Linked DNA regions of Homo sapiens: all the other regions are reported to be linked to region 1. Evidence: microRNA targets listed by miRTarBase, many of them from high-throughput screens and not tested one by one. Region 1 holds a microRNA gene; each other region holds the end of a gene's coding sequence. Distances are between the middles of the regions.
Evidence for each region. Region 1 holds the annotated microRNA hsa-miR-660-3p (ACCUCCUGUGUGCAUGGAUUA, at 4,328-4,348, opposite strand). A microRNA usually pairs through its seed, bases 2 to 8, with sites in the 3' UTR of a target mRNA and lowers its output. Matches are read on the target gene's strand: a 7mer-m8 pairs with bases 2 to 8, a 7mer-A1 pairs with bases 2 to 7 and ends in A, and an 8mer does both.

Region 2: the mRNA of ZMIZ2 is a reported target of hsa-miR-660-3p. Seed matches in the 3' UTR shown: 7mer-A1 at 2,731-2,737, 7mer-A1 at 1,954-1,960 and 7mer-A1 at 1,951-1,957.
Region 3: miRTarBase lists MAFK as a target of hsa-miR-660-3p. Seed matches in the 3' UTR shown: 7mer-A1 at 2,831-2,837 and 7mer-A1 at 2,834-2,840.
Region 4: the mRNA of SHROOM4 is a reported target of hsa-miR-660-3p. The part of its 3' UTR that is shown has no 7-base or 8-base seed match.

Annotation. Positions count from the first base shown.
Region 1 is chrX:50,011,879-50,017,639 of GRCh38, reverse strand. MIR660 (microRNA 660) reads right to left here and starts at 4,399; the gene lies at 4,303-4,399. All of the region lies in intron 3 of CLCN5 (chloride voltage-gated channel 5), which reads right to left. MIR502 (microRNA 502) reads right to left here and starts at 3,042; the gene lies at 2,957-3,042.
Region 2 is chr7:44,765,555-44,771,315 of GRCh38, reverse strand. ZMIZ2 (zinc finger MIZ-type containing 2) reads right to left here. Exons shown (of 19, transcript NM_031449.4): 16 at 5,737-5,761; 17 at 4,983-5,152; 18 at 4,653-4,895; 19 at 1,435-3,800. The coding sequence ends at 3,693. Among named protein-coding and RNA genes, the nearest start is that of ZMIZ2, 20 kb to the right of the region's middle. RefSeq lists enhancers at 2,832-2,971, 2,806-3,332.
Region 3 is chr7:1,538,613-1,544,373 of GRCh38, forward strand. It overlaps MAFK (MAF bZIP transcription factor K), which reads left to right. Exons shown (of 3, transcript NM_002360.4): 2 at 537-616; 3 at 1,329-4,431. The coding sequence starts at 581. The coding sequence ends at 1,763. It overlaps TMEM184A (transmembrane protein 184A), which reads right to left. Exons shown (of 9, transcript NM_001097620.2): 9 at 3,623-5,761. Among named protein-coding and RNA genes, the nearest start is that of MAFK, 11 kb to the left of the region's middle. RefSeq lists an enhancer at 1-767.
Region 4 is chrX:50,591,450-50,597,210 of GRCh38, reverse strand. SHROOM4 (shroom family member 4) reads left to right here. Exons shown (of 9, transcript NM_020717.5): 9 at 247-5,761. The coding sequence ends at 516. Among named protein-coding and RNA genes, the nearest start is that of DGKK, 120 kb to the right of the region's middle.

The DNA of each region.
Region 1 (5,761 bases):
AATAGATGACTGACCTAAATGTAAAACACAGAACTATAAAACTCCTAGAAAATAATGTAGGCTAAAATCTAAGTGATCTTAGGTTTGGTGGTGACCTTTTAGATACAACACCAAAAGCATGATCCATGAAAGAAAAAATTGATAGACTGGACTTCATTATAATTAAAAACTTCTGCTCTGCAAAAGCCACTGTTAATTGAATGTAAAAGCAAATCACACATGGGAAAAATATTTGCAAAAGACATATCTTAGAAAGGGATTGTATCTAAAATAAGTAAGAAACTCTTTAAGCTCAAGGATAAGAAAACATTCCTATTAGAATGCCTAAAATCCAAAACACTAACAAAACCAAATGTTGATGAGGATATGGAGTAACAGGAACTCTCGTTCACTGCTGATGGAAATGTAAAATGGTACAGCCACTTTGGAGGACAGTTTGGTGGTTTCTTACAAAATTAAACATAGTCTTACCATATGATCCAGCAACACTTCCTGGTATTTTACTTAAGTGAGTTGAGAACTTATGTCCATACAAGATCCTGCACACAAACGTTTATAGCAGCTTTATTCATAATTGCCAAAATGTAGAAGGAACCAAGCTGCCCTTCAGTGGGTGAGGATAAATAAACTTTGTGCCTCCAGACAATGGAATACTATGCAGTGATAAAAAGAAATAAGCTGGTTACTATATGGGATAAATGGGGAAAAAAATGAAAGAAAAGAAATGAGCTATCAAGTCATGAAAAGATATGAGGAGCCTTAAATGCATAGTGCTAAGTAAAATAAGCCATTCTGAAAAGGCTGCATAATGTATGATTCTAACTATATGACATTCTGGAAAAGGCTAAACTATGGAGACAGAAAAATGATCAGCGGTTGCCAGGGGTTTAGGGTGGGGGAGGGGGGATAAATAGGCAGAACTCAGAGGAATTTTAGGGCAGTGAAACTATTCTGTATGATACTATAATGGTCATGCATGTCATTATACACTTGTCAAAACCCATAGAGTATATAACACAAAGAGGGAACTCTAATGTAAACTATGGTTTACATTAATAATTATATTTAAACTATTATTTAATAATAGTTATAATACATTATAATTATACTATTATTTAATAATAATGTCTCAACATTAGCCCATCAATTTTAACAAGTGTACAACACTCATGCAAGATGTTAATAGCGGAAACTGGGGTGTCTCGAGAATATATAACAACTCTATACTTTCCATTCAATCTTTTTGTAAACCTAAAACTGCTCAAAAAAGTCTATGAATTTTTAAAATATGAAAAGAAACTAAAAGAGCCATTTACACATAAGGAAATTTTGATGCTAAAAATCATCCTGTGTAACACAGAAATCCCCCTAGTAATGACAGAATAGAAATTTTAAGTCATTTAAACCAATGGTTCTCAAACTTCAGTGTGCATCAGAATCACCTGGAGGGCTGTTAAAACACAGATTGCTGGGCCCCACCCCTGACTTTCTGATTACCTAGGTCTGAGGTGAGGCCTGAGAGTTTATTTCTAACAAGTTCCTGGAGGATGCTGATGCTGCTAGTCTTGGGCATCAAGAGAGGTATAAAGTCTGATAAAATAAGACTAAGGCTGAGCAGTAACCAAAATGAGATTTTAGAGTATACAAAAGATAAGGAGCACATATTAAATAACCTGAATCTTTACTGCAGGTTAGATTGGGAGAATCTGGGAGAGAAGAAGGACCAAGGATCAGAATCTATAAGTCCCAAATGTTTAAGAACTTGAGGACTGAAATGGAGTGTGTGTCTCTTTCTGTCTCTGTCACCACTATTTATAATACTGTATTGCTACGCTGACCTGAACACTATAAATTTGCAATGGGCAATGAGCAAAAATGATAAGATGGGGAGGAATGAATAGATCAGCTTAGCTAAGAAGAGAGTAACAACTGAAGAATACTGCTGAGGTCACAGTAGAAAGCACTCAGGCTCAGGCGCTAAGGATGGGAGGAGGGGAGTGAATCAGATCATGGGCACCTGTACTCCCTAGGTGAGAGAGAGAGAGAGATGGAGAGACGGACAGAGAGAGCGATAGACTGAAACAGAGACATGTATAGTCCATCTCTATTTGACTAAAGTAAGGTAATATAAAGATATAGGCTGTTCTCATTTCCATATTGTGTGGGGTGCATACAAGATCAGCAATAAGAAGGGTCCCTTGCTCTTCACCCCCTCTAATTCAAGAAGAGTCTGTAATAGACATCTAAAGGCAGCTCACAGTTCTACTCAGGATGTCCTGGAAGATAAAGGGCAGCTTATAAGCTCAAACTCCTATACATTCTGTAAGTGTAAATCTTCATGAATGTGTGCATCTCCCTGTCCTCAGAGGGGACAGAGTGGGGGGAATAGGAAGACTCTCTCTTTGGCCCCCATCATTTGTGCCCGTCTGAATTTTTCTTCTAAAGCTGCCCATCAGAGAGCACATCCAGTGATTTTGACTCTCGTTTGTCACTGCATCCTTAACACTAAAAAGAGTATCTGTCACACTCTAGAAACTCAAGATATAGGAAGGCAAGAAAAGAGACATATATGCACTCAGTCCATATATATACATATAGGTAGGCAAGGCTCCATCTCATTGAATCCTTGGCTTAATACTTGAGACAGCACTCACATCTAGGTTGGAAGGAAGTGAGGGAGCAAATCAGAAGGCTCTGGTTCCCGCCCACCACCCTGTGTGTGGACAGCAGGTGGGGAACACAGAGAAAGCTCACTGTCTCACTCTGGATACCTGCATACATGGACATTATTTAATAAGGACATTTATTCTAATACACAGACAAGCCCACCAGAGCACCTGAAGTCCCTAACTATTCTGTTCTGTGCTTCCCCAACACACACCCATCACTCAAAAACTATGACAGGGGAGGGTGGGAGGGGTGATGTCTAGGCTCTCTGTCCTTCTTGGTACAGTTGAGCTCCCCCTCTCTGAATCCTTGCCCAGGTGCATTGCATTGAGCCAGCACTAGCACCCAGATAGCAAGGATTAGAGAGGGGGAGCAGGGCAGAAGGCTTGGGCACCTGCCGTGCTCGAAGCAGAGAAGGTTCTCTGTTACACAGCTCTGTGTGAGAACAGGAATGAGAGTCTTGCATTGTGTATATGTTGGGAGAGGGTGTCAATAAGAAGTCCCATGTTGTGGCCCACACTAACTCAGCACGTGCAGGAATATTAGGTGACAAAAAGTCAAGTCTCCTACACATATTCTTTGAGGCAAGAACCAAGTCCATCTTGTGTGATACCATATGCCCACTGCCCTGGCAGCACAGCGTTAGCATGTACTAAGTGCTCAATACTTGTGAAAGGGAGGTAGAGGGGAAGGAGAGGGAGGAGGAAGTGTGACTCACAGGCACTTTGTCTGTCTATGGGCAGAAAAAGGCCCCTCTGAGAGTCCTGGAATAGGTGCTGCACTGAGACAGCATGCACATTTAGGTGGCAAGGATACAAGGGGAAGCAGAGCAGCAGGCTCAGGATGTGCACACCACATATATTTGCACAGGTACCCATGTCTGTGGGAGGGAATAAAGAAAAGCCTGATTTCTGGCACCCTGAGCCCATGTATTCACAGGAAGTTGGATGACATGAGGATGCTTATTCTCCATGAGCCTGCTAGACAGTAAGGTCGGCATCTCTGACAGGTTAGTTTACTGTGGCATTCCCAAACAGCAGGAATTCAGTAAATTTGTTAAAGGGATGAATAAATGAATGGACCAAAAACATGCACACACAAATGACTGACTGAAAGAATGAACAAAGGAAAGAGAAGGGATGGACAGGCTCTGTCCTACACATAGGCAAGGCTCACAAGCTGGTATCCTTGCACAAGCCCATTGCACTGCTAAGACAGCACTTGTGCCTAGGCTGCAAGGCTAGGAGAGGGCAAGCAAAAATCAAAGTCCAGGCACCTGCACACCAGGCATGCATCTGAGTGTGTGTGGCAAGGAAACTTGCAGGCAAGTTTAGATAATAAGGCTCCTTCCTTTCAGCTTTGTACAGAAATGTTTCTACACTTACACATGTGTGTGTGCACATGCATGCACAATGTGAGCATGTGTATTCATAAGAGAATGAGAAGGCTCAATTCCTGACACACCTGTGTCTGTTGCCTAGGCCTGGGGAAGTCTAGGCACCTAATACCTCCACTAGATAGGAAGTCCCGGAGAGAGACACTGTCCATTATTTAGCAGGGTACTCCCAGCACAGCTCATGGCACATCAAAAGTGCGCAATAAACACGGGCTACTTGGATTGTTCAGCAGAAGATTCACGATGACAAGGCTCACCCTCCTGTAATCCATGCACACAGGAGGTGTTTTGAGAATTCACAACTCCGATATGCAATGGGTATGGGAGAAGGAGCAGTTCATTCTTCTGCACATGGGAGGGGGGTGGGGGAGGAGAGAGAAAGAAAGACAGAAAGAGAGAAAGAGAGAGAGAGGAGAGAGATTGATTGATTGATTGAGAGAGAGACAGATTGAGATTAAAGTGTCAGGTGCACGCCTGGAGAAGCAGTGCCAAGTCTATTCCCTAATAAAGTACTTGTTGTGTGTTCACTTAGCCTCATGTGCTCACTGAATGTGTGGTTATGGAGGAGGTGGAGACAGTAATGAAATGATGGCTTCCCTGCCACAGTCTGCATGGACTCGGCATTGGGAACGTACATGAGCAATGCAGGAGCTCATTCTCTTCCACCCTTCACCTGACTAGCTTATCACTGCCCCTAGCTAGCACTTATACTAAATCAGTGATTCTCAAACTTAAGTGAGCATCAGAATCAGTTGAGAGCCTTGGTAAAGTACAGATTTCCATGGTTTATGGTGTAGTAGGTCAGGGATGAGCCCAAGAATTGGCATTTTGAACAAGCTCCTAGGTGATACAGATGCTGCTGGCCCAGGGACCACACTGAGAACCACTGCTCTATACATAACTTAAAGAAATGAAATAATGGGACATAGAGGGGTGATGCAAAGACTCTACACTTTTAAACATGGATGAGATTCCCTCTCTGAATTTTTGTACAAGGCAATGGACTGGAATAGCATTTGTACCCAACTACGAAGAATGAAAGAGAGGGACAACCTGAATAGAAGGCTCGAGCATCTTCAAATCCATTGTGTTTGTGTGTATGTACAAAAGAAACAGCACTCTCTGGCTCACAGGTGATTTTCCTATGACCATACAAAGGTGAAGTGTCTTTTCTTCATATGCATGTGTGAGATGACTGACAAGTAGGGCCACTTTCCTTCAAGCTCTGGTGGCATAAGCAGCAAGTAGAAAGCCTATTGCCTTGCACACCAGACATGAGTGAGAAGATGCTGCTAATGACACTCATTATCCTATGCACACTGTGGCTGCAGCTCTGTGTAAGGGGAGACACACCTTTTGTAGTTCTCTAGCTGAGCACTGTTGGGGGGTTGGAGAGGGGATGATGGGAAGACTCACTCTCTGCTACATACGTATGCATGAACAATGTGGGCAACGGAAGTTCCTTCTCTTAAACATGCTCACTAGGCATGTGAGTATGAGTTCTGTGTCTTTCTTGACCACCCTGTCTCTCCATGTCTGGTGCATGACAGGAGCGCCACCCCTGCTTGTTAAAGGTGGGAATGAATGAAGGATGGGGATTATAAACAGGTGTTCTTCGCTCTATGCAGAAAAGGCTCAGCCGTGGAATGCTTGCCTGGGTGCACCGCATTGACACAGCACTTGCATCCAGGTACCAGG
Region 2 (5,761 bases), not on the chromosome of region 1:
TTAGGAAGTGTTTTCTCCTCCACAATGTTTGGGAGAATTTGGGGATTTATGTCCATTCTTTAGCATTTGGTAGAATTCACCATCTGGTCCTGGGCTTTTCTTTTGTTGGGAAGCTTTTGATGACTGGTTCTACCTATGTGTTTTAGGTTGGTTCAGATTTTTTCCTTTTTCTTCTTTTTTTGAGGTCAGGTCTCTGTCTCTGCCTCATTCCTGGCTGGAGTGCAGTGGTGCTGTCATAGGTCGTTGCAGCTTTGAACTCCTGGGCTCTAGCTATCCTCCTGCTTCAGCCTCCCAAGTAGCTGGGGCTACAGGCACGTGCCATGACACCTGGTTGATTTCTAAAGATTTTGTCGAGGCAGGGTCTCTGTTGCCCAGGCTGGTCTCGAACTCCTGGCCTCAGGCCATCCTCCTAACTAGTTCTCCCCAAGTGCTGGGATCACAGGTGTGAGCCACTGCACCTGGCCCTGTTCAGATTTTCTATTTTTCCTGGGACAATTTTGGTCATTTGTATCTTTCTAGGAATTTTTTTGTTGTTGTTTTGAGACAGAGTCTCACTCTGTCACCCAAGCTGGAGTGCAATGGCATGATCTCAGCTCACTGCAACCTCTGCCTCCTGGGTTCAAGTGATTTTCCTGCCTCAGCCTCGTGAATAGCTGGGATTACAGGTGTGAGCCACCACGCCTGGCTAATTTTTGTGTTTTTAGTAGAGACAGGGTTTCACCACTTTGGCCAGGTTGGTCTCGAACTTCTGACCTCAGGTGATCTGCCTGCCTCGGCCTCCCAAAGTGCCGCGATTACAGGCGTGAGCCACCACACCCAGCCAAGATGTCGCATCTTTTTAAATGTTGGCATTTGCAGCTATAAATTTCCCTCAGAGCAGTTTTTGCCGCATTCCTTAAGTTCTGGTATGTTGTTTTCATCCATCTCTATTTCCTAATTTTTCTCGTGATTTCTCCTTTGACCCTTTGGCTGTTAAAAAGTGTGTTCAATTTCTATGTATGTGTGAATTTTCATTTTCCTTCTGGTATGGATTTCTGGTTTTATTCCATTGTGATTGGAGAAGGTGGTTTGCAGGATTCCGATCTCTAATTTACTGAGACTTGCTTTGTGCACTAACGTGTGGTCTGTCCTGGAGAACGTTCCCTGTGCACTTAGAAACGTGTGTTCTGCTGCTATTGGGTGGAGCACTGTTAAGTCTGGTCAGCCTTTTGGTTTTTATGTAATACTTGGCACATTCACAAGAAAATGTGTGAAACAGAAAGTACGACAAAGTGAAACCCACGAAGCCACCACTGACCCTGAGGTTCAAAACCTCCAGCATCTCTGCTCTTCCCTAAGCACAGCTCCGTCCCCTCCCCACGGGTGAGCACTGTGTTGTACTGACTCCCTGCCCTCCCTGATGACTTTAGCACCTGGGTATGAATTCCACACATATTTGGTTTTGAGCTTTATAAAAATGGCATCATACTGTATGAACTGTCTTGCTTTTTCATCCCACGTTGTTTCTGAGAGGTGTTTGTGATGGAGCACAGGGCCACGGTGCCCATGCATTCCTCAATCATTTCTCCAGTCTTCTGAGGATGGGCTTCTGGGTTGTTTGCAGCCTTTTGCTTGTCCCAGTCTCCTAGTTTCTCCACTCCATCCGGGAGCATCACGTTTGCAACAGGCAGGGCAGGTGGTGCATCAGATGTCCAGGACACAGTCATTTGACACCCAAGAAAGGAGGGCCTGGGGCCTGCATCAGGCCATGGCTGAGTGGGACTTTGCCAGGCTGTCTCCGCACCCAGCGACAGGACTGTGCGTGCTGCTGCTTCTTTTGTTTCCTCCACTTCTGTTCCCTCATCCAGAGAGGGCGGAAGAGCTGGAAACAGAGGCTTTGTCAGGGAATAAGGAAGCCCACCTGTGTGGTCCCAAATGTCGCAGGGGCAACGCTCACACCAGATACCTCCCTCCTCCTCCTCCCTGCAGCCTCTGGGCTCCCACAGACAGATGCCCTCCTCTAGTGCCTCCAGGGGCAGGCCTTGGCCGCCAGCCTGAGGATGCCCAGCGCTCCCCTCCTCCCCTAGGTTCCTGTGTTCCCCCAGTTCTTGCCTCTCCTGCTGGCTGGCTGGGAAGGCCCTCAAGGATGGGGCCCAGGACTGGAGGAAATGGTGACCCGGACCCCCACCAAGCTGGACAGGCAGATGGTAGGCAGGACACACCTCTGCAATCTCTGGGAAGTGACAAGCAGAGGCCTCCCAGGGACAAGAGCTGAGAAGGATGAGCCCCTGGCTGGGCTGGGGCTGCCAAACAACTGTCTCAGTGCCCCAGGGCAAGCCCAGATAAGGTGACATAGTGGCAAATGTCTCTCCTGGGCAAGCCTGGGATGCTTCACAAAACAGCTCTTCAGCTGAAGCCAACTTGGAAAATTCCAGGGAAAAGGAAATTTACTATGGGGCGGGAATAGCCGAGCCTTGGCTTGAAACATCCAGAGCTCAACCTGGGGCCCCAAAAGCCACTTGAAGGTCGACCTGGCCCCCAGGTCCTGCACAAGCTTTGCAGGCACAGCCCAAGCTTTAGGCAGGTCGCTGGCTTACGAGGAGAAAATAGTCCCTGGGAGCACAAAGGAGGGACTCGGCCAGGCCCACCAAGAGGGAGTCCTTTAATAGAGATCGGCACAGACAGGAGACACAACAGCCCAGGCGCCCTGCTCGCACAGGCTGGGGCCCTGAGCCAACAGATGCAGTGGCTTCCTCCTCCCCCACCTGGGTGTGGGCCCATGGGGTGGAGACAGAGAGGTGGCTTTAAAAAACACAGCTGTACTAATTCTTCACTTTCACAGAGAAGGGGAACTTGGGAGCGCAGCCCGCTAGAGAATCTTTACACAGAGCTGAATCTGAGAGCCCACCCACCCACCTCGGCCAGGCCGAAGCTCACTGTCCCCCACCCATTGGAGGTTCCTCCCTGATCTGTCTGCACATGGGAAGGAGCAGAGCGCGCAGGGAGACCGGGCTGTACAACAGGAACATGCTGGCTGGACAGCTGGCTCCCCTCTCCCAGCTGTTAGTGTTTCTACACTATGTACATTGTTGTGCTTTGTAGCTCCCCCACCCCGAGGCCTCTGCTTGAAGCTGGGGTGGGGAGAGGAACCTGACACCACACACGGCTGGGCTGCCAGAGCTCCAGGCCCCCAAGAGGCTGCCATTCAGCGAGGTTCCAAGAGCTGGACTGCTGGGCACAGGGGCCACTGGAGCCAAAGGCCCAGGGGACAGAGCCAGCCCTGCCAGATGCCCAGCTCTGCCCAGTGGAGGAGTTGTTGAAACAGAAGGATCAATGCTGGACAAGAAGCAGGCTGGGTGGGGGCAGGCAGGGGTGGAAGGACAAGGTGTGAGGCTGTGAGACCAGGGGCGTGAGATGTGTGTGTGGACAAGGCTGGACAGGGCTGGGCAGGGGCACCTCAGCAAAAACCGTTCTGCAGCAGCAGGCTTGGCAGAGGGAGGTGGCAAGGGCTGCCGGCCTGGGAGCCCCTCCCATCGAGCACAGGGCTGCTTCCAATTCAGGGGCAGGGCTGGCGGCAGAAGGCTCTGGCTCCAGGTGTGTTTTGGGGGAGGTTTGGGAAAGACCACCGGGTGTCCCATGGGGCTGGGCATGAAGGGCAGGGCTGTGGTGACATCTGTGAGCGTGTCCCCGCCGGGCTTGGGGTAAACACAGGATCAGTTGTTCTCAAACAGAGAAAGCAGGTCGTCATTGTTGTTCGTAGGGAGGTCGGGTGGGCCCAAGTAGGACAGTAGCTCATCAGGGTTGGTCAGTTCCGGGAGCAGCTGAGGACAAAGTGAACTCTGTTAGCAGCTTTGGTCACTGACTGGCCACACCTGAGTGACCATCCTGTCACCACATCCCGGCCCTGTCTCCAGGCACAGTGGGGATGCTGAGCAGCCCCTCCTCACACACAGGCCGGGTGCGGGGCCCCACCATAGGCCTGCATGTGCTCAAAGAGGCACACGCCACCCCCTGGGACCTCCCTGCAAGGTTGCTCTGGGGCCAGAACAGCTGGCAACATGCTGTTCAATACCACCAGGAAACGGGATGTGAGGGAGTGCAGCCACTCCACACTCCCTCTGTGCATCAGCCTGCGTGGGGATCCCCACCGTGATGCCCCAAGGTGAATGCTGGTGGTGGAATTCCATGCCCCTAGGATTTTCTGCTTGGAGCTGTTCTTCCTAACTTTTTCATGTTGAACTTCTAGAATGAGTTTCATGTTGAACTTCTAGAATGAGTTTCTATTATGGTCCAGGGACAGTCAGTTCTGTCCTTCATGTACTGAGTTTGCACTCCCATTCCACCTGTGAGTCAAGACCCAGGGCTACTGAGCAAATGGACAGACGAAATTTGACTCTAAGGACCGTGCTGTCAGCTTCCAGTGCAGTCTCCTCTGAGACTCTGCGTCCGCCCGTACGGCATCCAGGCCCCTCATGAACACAAATGTGGTACATCGCATCCCACCCGCAGCTACTCCAGGTATCTAATTCATGAACAAAAGCTGCATTTAGTTGACCTTATCTGACCGGCTCTCTGAGGGGTCACTGTCTTCCCTTCCAGAACGCACCTGGAACAGACACACCACCTCTAGCCCTGGCTCCCACGCACTCCCCCGCATGGGGCCTGGTACTCACGTCCAGAGCTGGTTCTGGGGCCTCCCCGGCTCCAGACATGCTGGGGGGCCCCATCACGCCTGTGGCAGGACTGAAGGCCAGTTCACCCGTAGGTCCTAAGCTCGCTTGGCCCAAGGACTGCCGGGACGCTGGGGGAGGGTTTGAATGGTGCAGCTGGGGACCTGGAGGGGCCCCAAGGTTGGAGGTGTGTAGTCCTGGTGTCCCAGGATTGTGAGTGGGGTCCAGGTGACCTGCTGGTGCCATCTGAAGACAGAGAGAAGAATTTGTTAAAACAGCTCAGGGGCTCCCCTGGGGAGACAGGGCCCCTTGGCCTCTCGGCTTGGCACTGACCTGGCTTGGGAGGCAGGCGGTAGACTTCTCTGAAGTCAGGAGGCTGCTGGGAATGTCAGACTGGTAGGAGATGGGGGGTGGTCCCGGGGTGAACTCAGCAAGGGTTGGGGTGCTGGGCGTGGTGGGTGGGAAGGACTCAGGGAAAGTTCCAGGCCCCAGGAAGCTGGAACCTGTGAGAGGAGAGTCGGGGCCTGGGTGAGGGCTGGGGAAGGCCACCGCTGGCAGAGGAGCCAGGAGGGAGGCTGGCTGTGGCATGGGTGGGACTTGCAGTGCTCACCCACAAACAACAGCGGGTTTTGCAGAAGTCGCTATTTGGAAAAGGGCATTTCTTCTCATTGCTGCCAAGGGAATTGGCCTTGGGACATTCCTAGGAGTGAAGGTCTCGGAGGTTATAGGAATGGGAGCAGCCACAAACAAACGCACCACGCGTGTGAGGTGGGTCCCAGAGGGGGGCCCCAGATGGGGCCAGTCCTGTGAGGTGTTCCAGCCAGGAGCCCCTTAATCCAAACGGGGAAGGAAGGGTGGAGGCCCCACTGTCTGTTTCCTGGGACCATAGCTGAGACTGTGCCTTCACCGCCACGTCCCTGAGATGGGAGGGGCTGGAGGTGCCCCGCGGCATGTTTTGTGTGGCAACACTGATAACCTAGGTGTGTGACCTGCATAGCCACATTCTTGCAGGTGAGGAGACTGATCTGGGGAGAGGAGCCATATGCCCAGGGTCATCTGAGGTTCAAGGCTAGCCTGCTGTACTTACCCTGGCCAGGGTAGTCGCTGGGGGC
Region 3 (5,761 bases), not on the chromosome of region 1:
GGGTCGCTGTCCAGCGGGGCCCCACACTCCTCGGGGCCGGCACAGCTGTCTTGAGGGAGGGAGGTTTTGCCACCAGTCACTTTGGTCCTCGGTACGGGGCACCTTGTGCTGTGCAGGTGCAGACGTCTTCTCTGACCTCAGGGAGAGTCAGAACAGGAAGCAGCCACTGCCGGCGCCTGCTGGTCACCCCACAGTGCCGGCGGCTGCAGCCCAGGTCTGCAGGGCAGCAGGGGGCCGCACCTGGCTGCCAGGCCCTGGGGTGGGGTCCCAGCCGCTCTGTGGAGTGTGCTAGAGTGTGAGGTGCAGCCAGACCTTTCCCTGAACCCTCAGGCAGGGACAGAGGCCGGGCCAGGATGCCTCACCCCCTGGGAAGCCCCTCAGGACGGGCTGGGCCCGGATGGTGCCCCGTCTTGTTTTCATGGTGCTGTGACTGTCCACCCCGGGCTGAGAAGCATCCCTGCATGGGAGGTGGGCACCCTGTCCGGCGCTGCCGGCCCTGACCTGTGCTGGCTTCTCTGCTTGTCCATGTTTTCCAGCTACGAGTTCCAGGGAGCTCTGTCCTGGTGACCGTGCCCGGGTTATGACGACTAATCCCAAACCGAATAAGGCATTAAAGGTAAGGCTGGTTCCAAGCAGGCCCCGTCTCAAGCACAGGCGTGGGAAAGGCCCCCGGCCCGACAGCCCCTGCTATCCCAGGGCCGTCCTGAGCCTGTGATGGAGGCCTCCCTGTTGCCAGGAGGAGGGGGGCTGCTGTGGCCGAGGGATGTTCACAGGAGAGGTGGAGTCAGGATCGGGGACTGTGGTTCCAGGCGATGACTCCCAGGCTGAGGGCGTGGCAGGGTCTGCTGCCTTCCCGCCTGGGCTGTGTGTCCGCCGGGCGCTACTGCATGAGCTCATCCCCTGGCTCCAGGCGTGGGCAGCGTGGCCAGCGTGGCCTCTGGTGAACGCGATGCTCCAGCTCCCAAGGCCCGAGCCCACCTGTGCCTGGCGCTTGCCGCCTCCACAATGGCGTGTGCCTGTGGGCCGGCTCAGTCCCAGCAGCAGGACCCATGCACTCTGGGTCCTCATGGGCTCTGAGGCTGTCGGTAACCAGGAGTGACCGATGTCACCACTGGCTTTTCCCGTTCAGAAAGGGTCCTGTGGGGCCACAGCTGTCACATGGGCTGCCTGCGTGCACAGTGTCCTGTGGTCCCTGGTGCGGATGGCGAAGGCCAGCCCTGAGAGCGCAGGCGTGCAGGGGCACCGCTGGGTTCCTGGCCACCCCAGTGTCGGTCCCAGGCAGACACCCCACGTTCTCCCGCCGCTGACCCCGCACTGTGGCCCCCCAGGTCAAGAAGGAGGCGGGCGAGAACGCCCCGGTGCTCAGCGATGATGAGCTGGTGTCCATGTCGGTGCGGGAGCTGAACCAGCACCTGCGGGGTCTCACCAAGGAGGAGGTGACCCGCCTGAAGCAGCGTCGGCGCACACTCAAGAACCGCGGCTACGCGGCCAGCTGCCGCATCAAGCGGGTGACGCAGAAGGAGGAGCTGGAGCGGCAGCGCGTGGAGCTGCAGCAGGAGGTGGAGAAGCTGGCGCGTGAGAACAGCAGCATGCGGCTGGAGCTGGACGCCCTGCGCTCCAAGTACGAGGCGCTGCAGACCTTCGCGCGCACCGTGGCCCGGGGACCTGTGGCGCCCTCCAAGGTGGCCACCACCAGCGTCATCACCATCGTCAAGTCCACCGAGCTCTCCTCCACCTCCGTGCCCTTCTCGGCTGCATCCTAGTGCCGGCCGGGGGCGGGGGGTGGCGGGCGGCGGGCGGCGGGCAGGCGGGTGGGGGCACACCCCTCGTACCTGTCACTGGGATGCAGACTCTCGACATCCGAGTCCAAGCGCAGGCCCCTCGGGCGCAGGCAGCTCACACCAGGAAGAGACTGTATTGCAGGGTGAAGAGTGGGCTCCCGTGGGCCCAGAGCTGCACGCCGGTCCACAGACACACTCACGCCCGCCACCTGCTCCCCGCAGGATGTGTCTGTGTGTGGGAATTGGTATCTTGCACCCGTGGGAGTCGGGACATATAATGGAAAGGCCCTCGGGAAGTTCCGCGTCCTCTGTGGGGGCTGCCGGAAGACACGGCCCCAGGAGTCAGGCCCCTGTGGTCAGGTCTAGCATGGGGCTTGTTTTCCACTCCTGCTGTAAGCAGCCTTCGACACCTGTCCTGCCACGGCCTCCCAGCCGGTGCGGGAGCCCCTCACTGCCCTGACCGACTCCGCAGTCCCCGGGGAGGAGCATGGATGGTGTGTCGGCAGCTCCGTCCTTCCAGCTGTCCCGTTGCAGTGCCCGTGATCCGCGTCTGCCTTAGCAGGGGCCTGCGTGAGTGGGCACGGTGTGGGAGGTCGCCTGCGTGGGGTGGTGTCTGTGTGTGTGCACGCACGCCTGCCATCAAAGCAGCAGGGCTGAGGGGGTGCAGCTTGCTGGTGTTCACTGGGGGAGGGCCTGTGGGCACACATGGCAGAGAGAGTGGCTCACACGTCGTGAGGTCTCCCCTGTGCTCTGGTGACCCGAGGAGGTCGTGCAGCACAGCGCAGAAGCCCCTGCCCACGGGATCCGGCCCCCCAGACACCGACCCCACAGGCCGTCCCGGATCTCAGCGGACACAGGCAGGAGCGCCCCATCATTTGACGGTGAGCAGGACTCAGGCTGTGTGTCCTGGAGCTACTTCTCACCAACTGTGGTCAGTGCAGGGGGAACGAGGAGGTCTTTTGGGGGCCTGGCGAGGGGAAGGGCTGCTGCAGTCTAGGGAGAGGGGGTGCAGCCTGGGGGATGTTGGTGGACATGGATGTGGAGGTGGAAGGAGGAGGACGTTGCGTGGAGTGGTGGGAGGAGGCGGGAGCCGTGTGCGAGAGCAGGTGGAAAGCCTTGAGGGGCAGGACCAGGATGCAGCTGGCTTGTAGAAGAGCTCAGGAGTGAGCCTGGCACTCCAGAGGGCGCGGCGGGTGGGGAGGCAGCAGGCACCAGTCCAGGAGAGCTTCGTGGACGTGGCTCCTGCGCGCACACCCCCAGGAGCACAGCCACGGGCTGCAGGTGTGGCTGGCCTCAGCACTCAGTCCTCACCCGGAGCCTTTGCCTGCTCCTCCTTCCAAGAGCACTGAGGCACCAGTGGGCTTGGCACTCCACCTTGGGCTTCCTTTTCCTGGAGAGCCGCCTTGAGGGTCCCTCCTGTGACTGGGGTCTCTGCAGCGAGAGCCGCGGGGGTTGCGGAGCCCCTGCCTGGGGGAGCTGGCGGAATGTGAGCCGCCGGCCGGGGGCCGCCACATAAGACCTGCAAGGTGGTGCCTGGGGCCCTGGCTCCTTCTCGGCTGCCCCTGCCCACCCAGTAACAGCCCCCACCAGCTACAGAGCCCAGGCGGGTGCCAGCCACGCTGGGAGGGCAGAGGACAGACAGCCCCGGGGCTGCGACTTGGTTCTGTGTCTACTGTTAGAAGTTGAGTGGGAAGCTGCAGGCCCGCCAGGACCACTGGGTCCCTACAGAGCAAAGGCCTGCGTGTTCCCAAACAGCCGTTGCCCCCGTGGCCGTGGTAGGTAATCCATATTGGATGTCATAAGGACCAGGGGGATATTTAAAGAGAGAAACAGAAAATATATAGAGATATAAAATTATATTCACAGTTTATCTACAGATTTTTCGTAACAATCTTTCTTTTCCAGTTTGATACTGTAAATCTATCAGAGCAGAGCCGGGGGCACGGGCACAGGTGGGAGTTGGGAGCAAAGCGGAGGCCCGGGCTGCCCGCCGTCCCCCTTCATCTCCCCACGGACTGTACCAGGCAGCTGGGCCCCGCAGGACAGGCCGCAGCGGGTGGCCGGTTCTGTCCCGTCTTGGGGTTCTTGGTGTCCACGTCTTGTGGGCCGTGGGCTTCTACCTGCCCTTGGCCTGCAGTGCTTTGCTGGAGAAGGGACTCCCTGGTCCCCAGGGTGGACGGAGCCGCTGTCACCGCCCAGAGCTGGGCCGGGGAAGCACGGTGTGTTCTGCTTTTCTTTTCAGATTGTTGAAATTTCATTGTCATGATTTAATATATGGATTTTTTTATTTAAGAAAAAGACGAGGGACTCTTTGTCACGTGGGTTTGTTTTCTGTCTCCGTGCCTCCGGCTTCCCAAAGAGATCCAGGTCTTTGCGTTTCCAGGGCGTGGGGACCCCGGCCCCCTATGCCGCCACGCCGCCACACCGCCTCACCCTGGCTTCTGTGCTACTTGGCAGTTCCATTTCATTATTTATTTTTTGTGCTGCTTTTTATCATGATATAAATTATTGAAAACAGATCACATGTGGGCCCGTGTCTGGCCGCCGCCGCCCTGCCCCGTCCCTGCGGCCACCACCTAATTTATTGCCGTGCGTCCTGCTGCTGTGACTGCTTTTGTACCTTTGCAATAAAGAATTTTCTGGTTTCAGACCCTTTCGTTGCGTAGCTGGTGCTTTCAGCTGGGGCTTTCTTGGGCCAAGAACCACACCCCCCCCCCAATCCCAGGGGACCCTGCCTGTCCCTCACCGGGGTCAGGATCCGGGCACTACGTGTAAGTGGCTTTCCCGGACTGCTGGGCCGTGACCGTGAGGCTGGGACAGCCACGGGGGAGGTGCTGGTCAGGTGACCACGTCCTGGGCTCAGTCTCTGAGGGTCAGGCCGCAGTCCTGAGTGTCCCCATCTGCCCCACCCGGAGCCCCCTGTCCATGCAGCCTCTCCCTTCCAGTGGAAGGAGCAGAGAGCAGCACGGCTGTCAGTGTTCCCCTTCCCTGGGAGACATCTCGCCCAGCTTTGCTGGACTCTCAGAGGAGCCTGCAGGAAGCTGTGAGCAAGACAGGGTCTGTCTGGGAGCAGAGAGCAAAGCGCCCCTGCACAGTGGCCGGAAGCCCGTGGACTCCTCCGAAAAGCCACGGGCCTGCCCGCATGCCGTCCCCACCCCGCCCGGCCTTCCCCGTTTTTGGGGCTGAGCTGACCGAGGTGTGAACGCTGTTCAGTGCTGGACCACGCAGGGTGAAATCCCAACTCGAGTTTTTTGAGACAGTATCTTGCTTTGTCACCCAAGCTGGAGTGCAGGGGCGTGATCACAGTTCACTGCAGCCTCGACCTCCCAGGCTCAAGCAATCCTCCCATCTCAGCCTCCTGAGTAGCTGGGACCGCCGGCACGCACCACCACGCCCAGCTAATTTTTGTATTTTTTTTTTGTAGAGATGGGGTTTCACCATGTTGCCCAGGCTGGTCTCAGACTCCTGGGCTCAAGCAATCCACTCGCCTTGGCCTCCCCAAGTGCTGGAATTACAGGTGTGAGCCACTGCACCCGATCATAATCCCAACTCGCAGCATCTGTGTGGCCTGGGGCCAGTTCCCTCCTTCCCAGCCTTGCTTCCTGTGAGTTGGGTGTGGAGGTGAGTGTGCAACAGCTGGCACATAGCGCAGTGAGTGTTGAATCTGTGCTGGGGCCACAGCAGCCCGAGCTTGTCACTAGCAATGGCAGGGATGGCACTTTCCCCAGCTAAGTCAGACCTCCCTGCAGCCCACCCTGCGGCTCTGGGCCCAGCCTGCTCCTCCTGGGGGAGCCGACGGGTGTGAGTTGGGGGCACAGAGCCCCAGCCCTGTGTGGGGCTCCTGGAGGCTGCGGACAGACGGGGAAGCTGTGAAAGGAGACACCGCCCCGCCCGGCCATGCAGCCTGCACCCGGGCCAGGCCAGGGCCCCCAGGGCTTCCACCGTTTCTTGTGGATGCTGGGGATTTTCAGCTGGACCAT
Region 4 (5,761 bases), 580 kb from region 1:
TAAAGAGATGGAAAGAGGTAATTTCACATCCCCTATCCAGAATTGTTGTCATGTTTACCCTCCTGCTACAGGAAACAAAGGCTTTTGCATGGAGGTAGACTTCAGGGCAGAAAATCTAGGACTGACTAATTAGCAGAATGTATAGCTGCTTTGTGGCAGCATCTCTGGTGGAGTACTGCTAGGCAGCACTGTTGGACAGATGCCTGGTAATTGAGAGAGCCCTTACTTGGTCCTCTGCTTCCCCAGTTGGTACTGATAGAGAAGAAGCAGCAGCTGACGGGGCAGTTGGCAGATGCCAAGGAGCTGAAGGAGCACGTGGACCGCCGGGAGAAGTTGGTGTTTGGCATGGTCTCCCGCTACCTGCCTCAGGACCAGCTCCAAGATTACCAGCACTTTGTCAAGATGAAATCTGCTCTCATCATTGAACAGCGAGAGCTGGAGGAGAAGATCAAGCTCGGGGAAGAGCAACTCAAATGTCTCAGGGAGAGTCTACTCCTGGGGCCCAGCAATTTCTAATTCTACCAGCACTCTGCCACAGCATCCCTGCCCAGCCATGTGGGAAGTGCTTTCAATCTTCTTTGTTAGCAGTTTCTCAGCAAGTAGATAGCAATTAGCAGTTTGTTCCAGCCCTCTACCCTGGATGTCTCTCACTACCCCTTCCCTAGCAGTGGTCCTAACCAGCTAGGAGACCCTGGGGAAGCCACAAGCTTCTACCCAAGGGAGCTGCAGCAAGGTGTGATCTTAGAACCACACTCTCCTTCCCACAGTTGCCAAGGGCAAGTACTTGCTGCACAGAGAACCAAGGAAGTGCCTTCATTCTGCTTTGTACTAGGACACCAAAGACATCAAGTACTCATCACCCACCCATATCATCAACAGCCTCTAAAGGCTCAGAGGGAATCTGCCTTGCAGCTCTACTCTGCCCCAGGGCTTGTGGCCAGCCATTTCTCACAGAGAGCTGGCTGCCTTGAGGGCATTCACCTGGCACCAGTTTCAGGGCCTCACCCAAGCTTTGCAGGGGAAAGCACAGAGGGAGGAATTACACTGAAAAAAATGCAAGCAAAGGTTGAGTACCCCCAGGTGCCCCTTAGGAAGGAACCAGGTTTAAATAGGCTCTACCCTTACCTTTCCCAGCAGCAAGTTCAGGGGAAGAGGCCTACTCTTAGCCCTGGCTAGTGTGACCCTCTTCCTGTCCTAAGACTTTGGTCCTACCACCTCTTGTTTCATCTTTCCTTTACATTGCTGGGGGTTACCGCAGGTGCCTACCCCAGGGCTTCACCATATGGGCCATTAATAGCTCTACTAAAACTGACTTCTAGATGTAGGTTTCATTATTGGGGGAGGGGGTTCTTATTGTTATATTTTAAATGGCCTTTTGATTTTATTTATTTTTATGTTTTGATTATTTTTTTCTTTTTTAACTAATAAGGCGAGAAGAGGGAAGTTGGAGAGGGAAAAGTTAGCCCAGAAGGAAAGCATTTTCTGCAGATCAGCCTGAATCCACCGTGGCTAGGTAAGCAAGTGCCAAGGCGTTGAATTGTTCCCACCATAGCTACCGATGTCTAGGAAGGAGTTTTCCCCTTGAACTCAGAGCCTCCCTACTGTGGCCTGGCCTTGTGCTTCCCTTAAAGTCTAAGTGACTTGAGTTTAGCATTCCCCAGCAGGGTTTAAGTTTTTCTTACTGATTTCTTTTTGAAACCAAAGAAATCTCCTGAAATGGAGAAAGGTTCAGTCATTTCTCTACCATCTCCAAGCTATGGGATCAGTAGAGGTGAGCTCAGAAGGAACTCCTCTAACCATTGCTTTCTCAGCCTGTGGCCTGGCTCAAGGGAACCAAAACTCAAGGTAGCTGGGAGCTCCAGCCAGAGCCAGCTCCCCAGAGCAATTGAAGACCCAGCCAGGATCTTAGGCATACAAACAACTAAAACTGCTGCTGTTGCCAAGGCCCTGACACCAGTAGCTAGTTTCTATGCTGGAAAAGCAGCCCTCAGGTGGACGATGGCAAGAAGGGGGTTATGGCCAAATGCTGCCCTGTTATCCAGCTTAGCTCCCTGTTCCTCACTAACTGGGGCCAATCCTTGGTATCACACAACCCAGCCAAGGCCTGGCATCTCTTCTAGTTACTGCTGAGTTCCTCAGGGTCCTTGAAGGTCAACTGTAGCAGCAGGGATGTCTCATTCAACCAAAGAATTTGCCAAGGAACTTTTGCTGCTGTTACAAATACTTGTCACTAGCTTCCATTTCCTCTTCATTGTATTTGAAAACAATGGGAGAATCTTGGCCAGCAGGGTGTCCTGGGGTAGGGGGTGGGGTAAGCCTTTCTGTGGAGCTCTGGGTTTGCTCTTAGTACTGCTGCCAGAAACACTGTTAGAATGGCAACCCTGCCATTCTCCCCTCCAGTGGAAGATTCTACTTTATTCAGGAAGGCTGGTGGCTTGCAGGGGCTAGGCTTACACAAGCCAGCCAAGATTGAGAAGGTAGGGGAGTGCTTTCAATGGAGGCCATAGTTGTCATCTTTTCTTCTGAGCAGGCTCTAGGACAAACAATGAGCAAATTGAGATGTCCTGTATTGGGAGGATGAGGCTGATATGTTTCATCATTCTCAGAATTTGTGGGCTAGAGCACCTTTTTGGGAATATGGGCCTAGGGAAAAGAACGGTCACTTACCTGGACACTATGGCCATAGTCTTGAGTTTTTCTAGTCAGCATGTGATTGGTTGTACCTTAAGTTTATGACACCAAAAATACTATTAACTCTGTTATTTTTGTTCTTAATCCCATCTCAAATTAGTTTCTAGAGTTAGAATCAGAACACAAGGATGCTCATTTTCACATGGAGGGAAAGTTGCCAAAGCATTTAAAAAATAACCCCAAAAGTATATCTAGCAGTGAAGCTTGGTAGATAAAGGTGAACTGCTAAACAGACACTGGCGTGCCACACTCCTGCCAGGGCAGTCTCATTGTGTGTGACGGTGCTGCAACACTGCCAGTATTACTTGAGATGCAGTCTCTCTCCCCTGTTCTCAGTTCCTGGGCTCAGCCCTCCTCCAAGGCCTGCCAGTGAGTAGCAGTTTGGAAGGCAGGCCAAGGGAGATCCCCAAAGACAGTTATCAGTCTTAACTTCTGCTGTCTCCCGTCAAATACTTATACAGGCCCCCATGGGTAATAGGCAAGCATGATGGCTGATAGAGAAGTCAGTGCATGAGTTACTATCACATGTCCCCCCAACCCCTCCTGCCACCTCCCAGGGCTCTGGATAATTGAATCTTCCTGAGTCCCACAGCTGGAGACTCAACCAGGATATAGCTGTAAATGCCCAAGTAGAATCTGACAGAATAAGACAGAGACACTGAAAATAAAGCCCTAGAAAGGAAGAAATTGGAAGCAAAGAAAAGGAGAGGTGAAAAGATAAAAAGCCTCCTTCAAGGTTAGGTTCAGGTTCTGTTTTCCATTTAACCTCATGTGCCATAAAGCTGCCCAGGCACACCAGAGCCACATCCTGAACCCGACCCTCCCTGACAGTGCTGCTCTGCCAGTAGCAAGCCCCAGATGGAGGAAGCTGGGCCCATTTCTGGCCACTTCCACCCATTTGGAGCTTTGCCAGAGGAGTCGTCTATGCCAATAATATTTCTGCAACAGCATATTATATTATTTGAAGATTAGTAGATCTTTTTGGGGGGGTGGGGCAGGGGACAGTTTCTATAGATGAAGAACCAGTGTTGGTTGTACAGCTGTTGGGGGTCATCTATCCCATGTGAAGCTATTCTTTTTCCAAATCTTGTTGTTTCTGCATTTGTGTCCTCCACCACTCCCTTCTTGGCTGACATAGATATGCCTGCCAGATTGTCATCAAGGGTCATATTTCAATAAAAGGTGCTAAGGACAAAAAAAAATCTCATGTGTTTTAACTCAGGTGATGGAAGTCTAAAGATTCTGCTGAAAAGTACTGGAAAGGAATTTGGTCACCTATCCATAGTCCTTCACAGATAAACATATGACCAGACCCTTACCCACATCCCTAAACCCTTACCCTGGCCTCTGAGGGATGGTATTGATGCTATACCATTCATCATCCCCAGTTAAATAGCAGGATCTGCCATAGCCTTTTTAGGGGAACAGCTTTTAGACATCTATTTCAAGACCATCCTGAGTAGGGGGTACAGAGTTTAAGCCATTGGTTATTTCTGTTGTTATCACAGTATTGAAGCATGGTATTTTTCTACTCAGAAGGATCTCAGGATCACAGCCCTGCCCTTTAGCTCACTGATATATTTCTTCCTCTCTGGTTACTCAGTGGCAACATCACATCCAGTCTAACCCCATGTTTAGAATGCAGAAAAAGTCAACAATAGGTGTAATCTCAGGTATAGACCTAAGCAGTATACAGAGTCTAGTTCTGGAGTCTAGCCTGATCGAAGGTAAGCCATTCTTTCTAGACTTCTTCCAATCTTGAATTCTGTCTAGTATTTTCATCTTACTTCTAGCTGATAGTCCAATCTCACACCTTCATGCTCAGCTCCCTGGAAAGCAAGGGCCTTGGTGATCTGCTCTCCAAGGCAACCTCAAAGATTAGACTCAAATGTATTCCAGGAAGCAACTCTGACATTGAAAAGCTTTCTTTTTTCGTGATCCATATTCTGTTCACATTCCAACTATCCTCCTTCTACTCAAGATATCCATTGTGGTAGAGTAGAAAGAGTCCAGCTTTGGCATTAGAATGAACTGTGTTCAAATCCTGGTTCTGCCACTTATTCAATGAACCTGGGCTACTAGCTCAACTTCTGAGGTCATTTTCTTATCTGTAAAATGGGAACAGTATTATCTTGCTTGCAGTTATTGTAACTTGAAAATAATAAATAAAAGCCACTAACAATCCAAGAAGTTATTAGGCAGAATCCCAGGCCCACCCCAAACCCAGTGATAGCAGTCTGAATTTTAACTAGATTTCCAGGAGATTCATGAACATATTACAGCATGGGAAGTACTGACTTGTTGAAAACATATTCAGTACATGGTAACCATTATTATAGTCCTGATCTACTCAATTCATTTTTTCCTTATCCCAGGCATATTCTTGCTCTTCTCGTGTTGCTCACAACTACCTGCCTGGATGAATTTAGGAAAGTTGCAGGATACAAGGTTAAAACACAAGATCAAATGAACAATCCGAAAATGTTATTAAGAAAACAGTTCCGGCCGGGCATGGTGGCTCACGCCTGAAATCCCAGCACTTTGGGAGGCCGAGGCAGGTGGATCACGAGGTCAGGAGATCAAGACCATCCTGGCTAACACGGTGAAACCCTATCTCTACTAAAAATACAAAAAATTAGCCAGGTGTGGTGGCACGCACCAGTAGTCCCAGCTACTCGGGAGGCTGAGGCAGGAGAATTGCTTGAACCTGGAAGGCAGAGATTGCAGTGAGCTGAGACCACACCACTGCACTCCATCCTGGGCAACAGAGTGAGACTTTGTCTCAAAAAGAAAGAAAGAAAGAAAGAAAGAAAGAAAGAAAGAAAAGAAAGAAAGAAAGAAAGAAAGAAAACAGTTCCATTTACAATAGCATCAAAAAGAAAAAAGTACTTAGGAATAATTTAACAAAAGAAGTGCGAAACTTTTACACTGAAAACTATAAAACATTGTTGAAAGAGATTAGAGAAGATCAAAATAAATGGAAAGACACTCCATGTTCATGGATTGGAAGACTTAGTATTGTTAAGATGAAATGTGCCCCAAATTGATCTACAGATTCAATCCAGTGCTT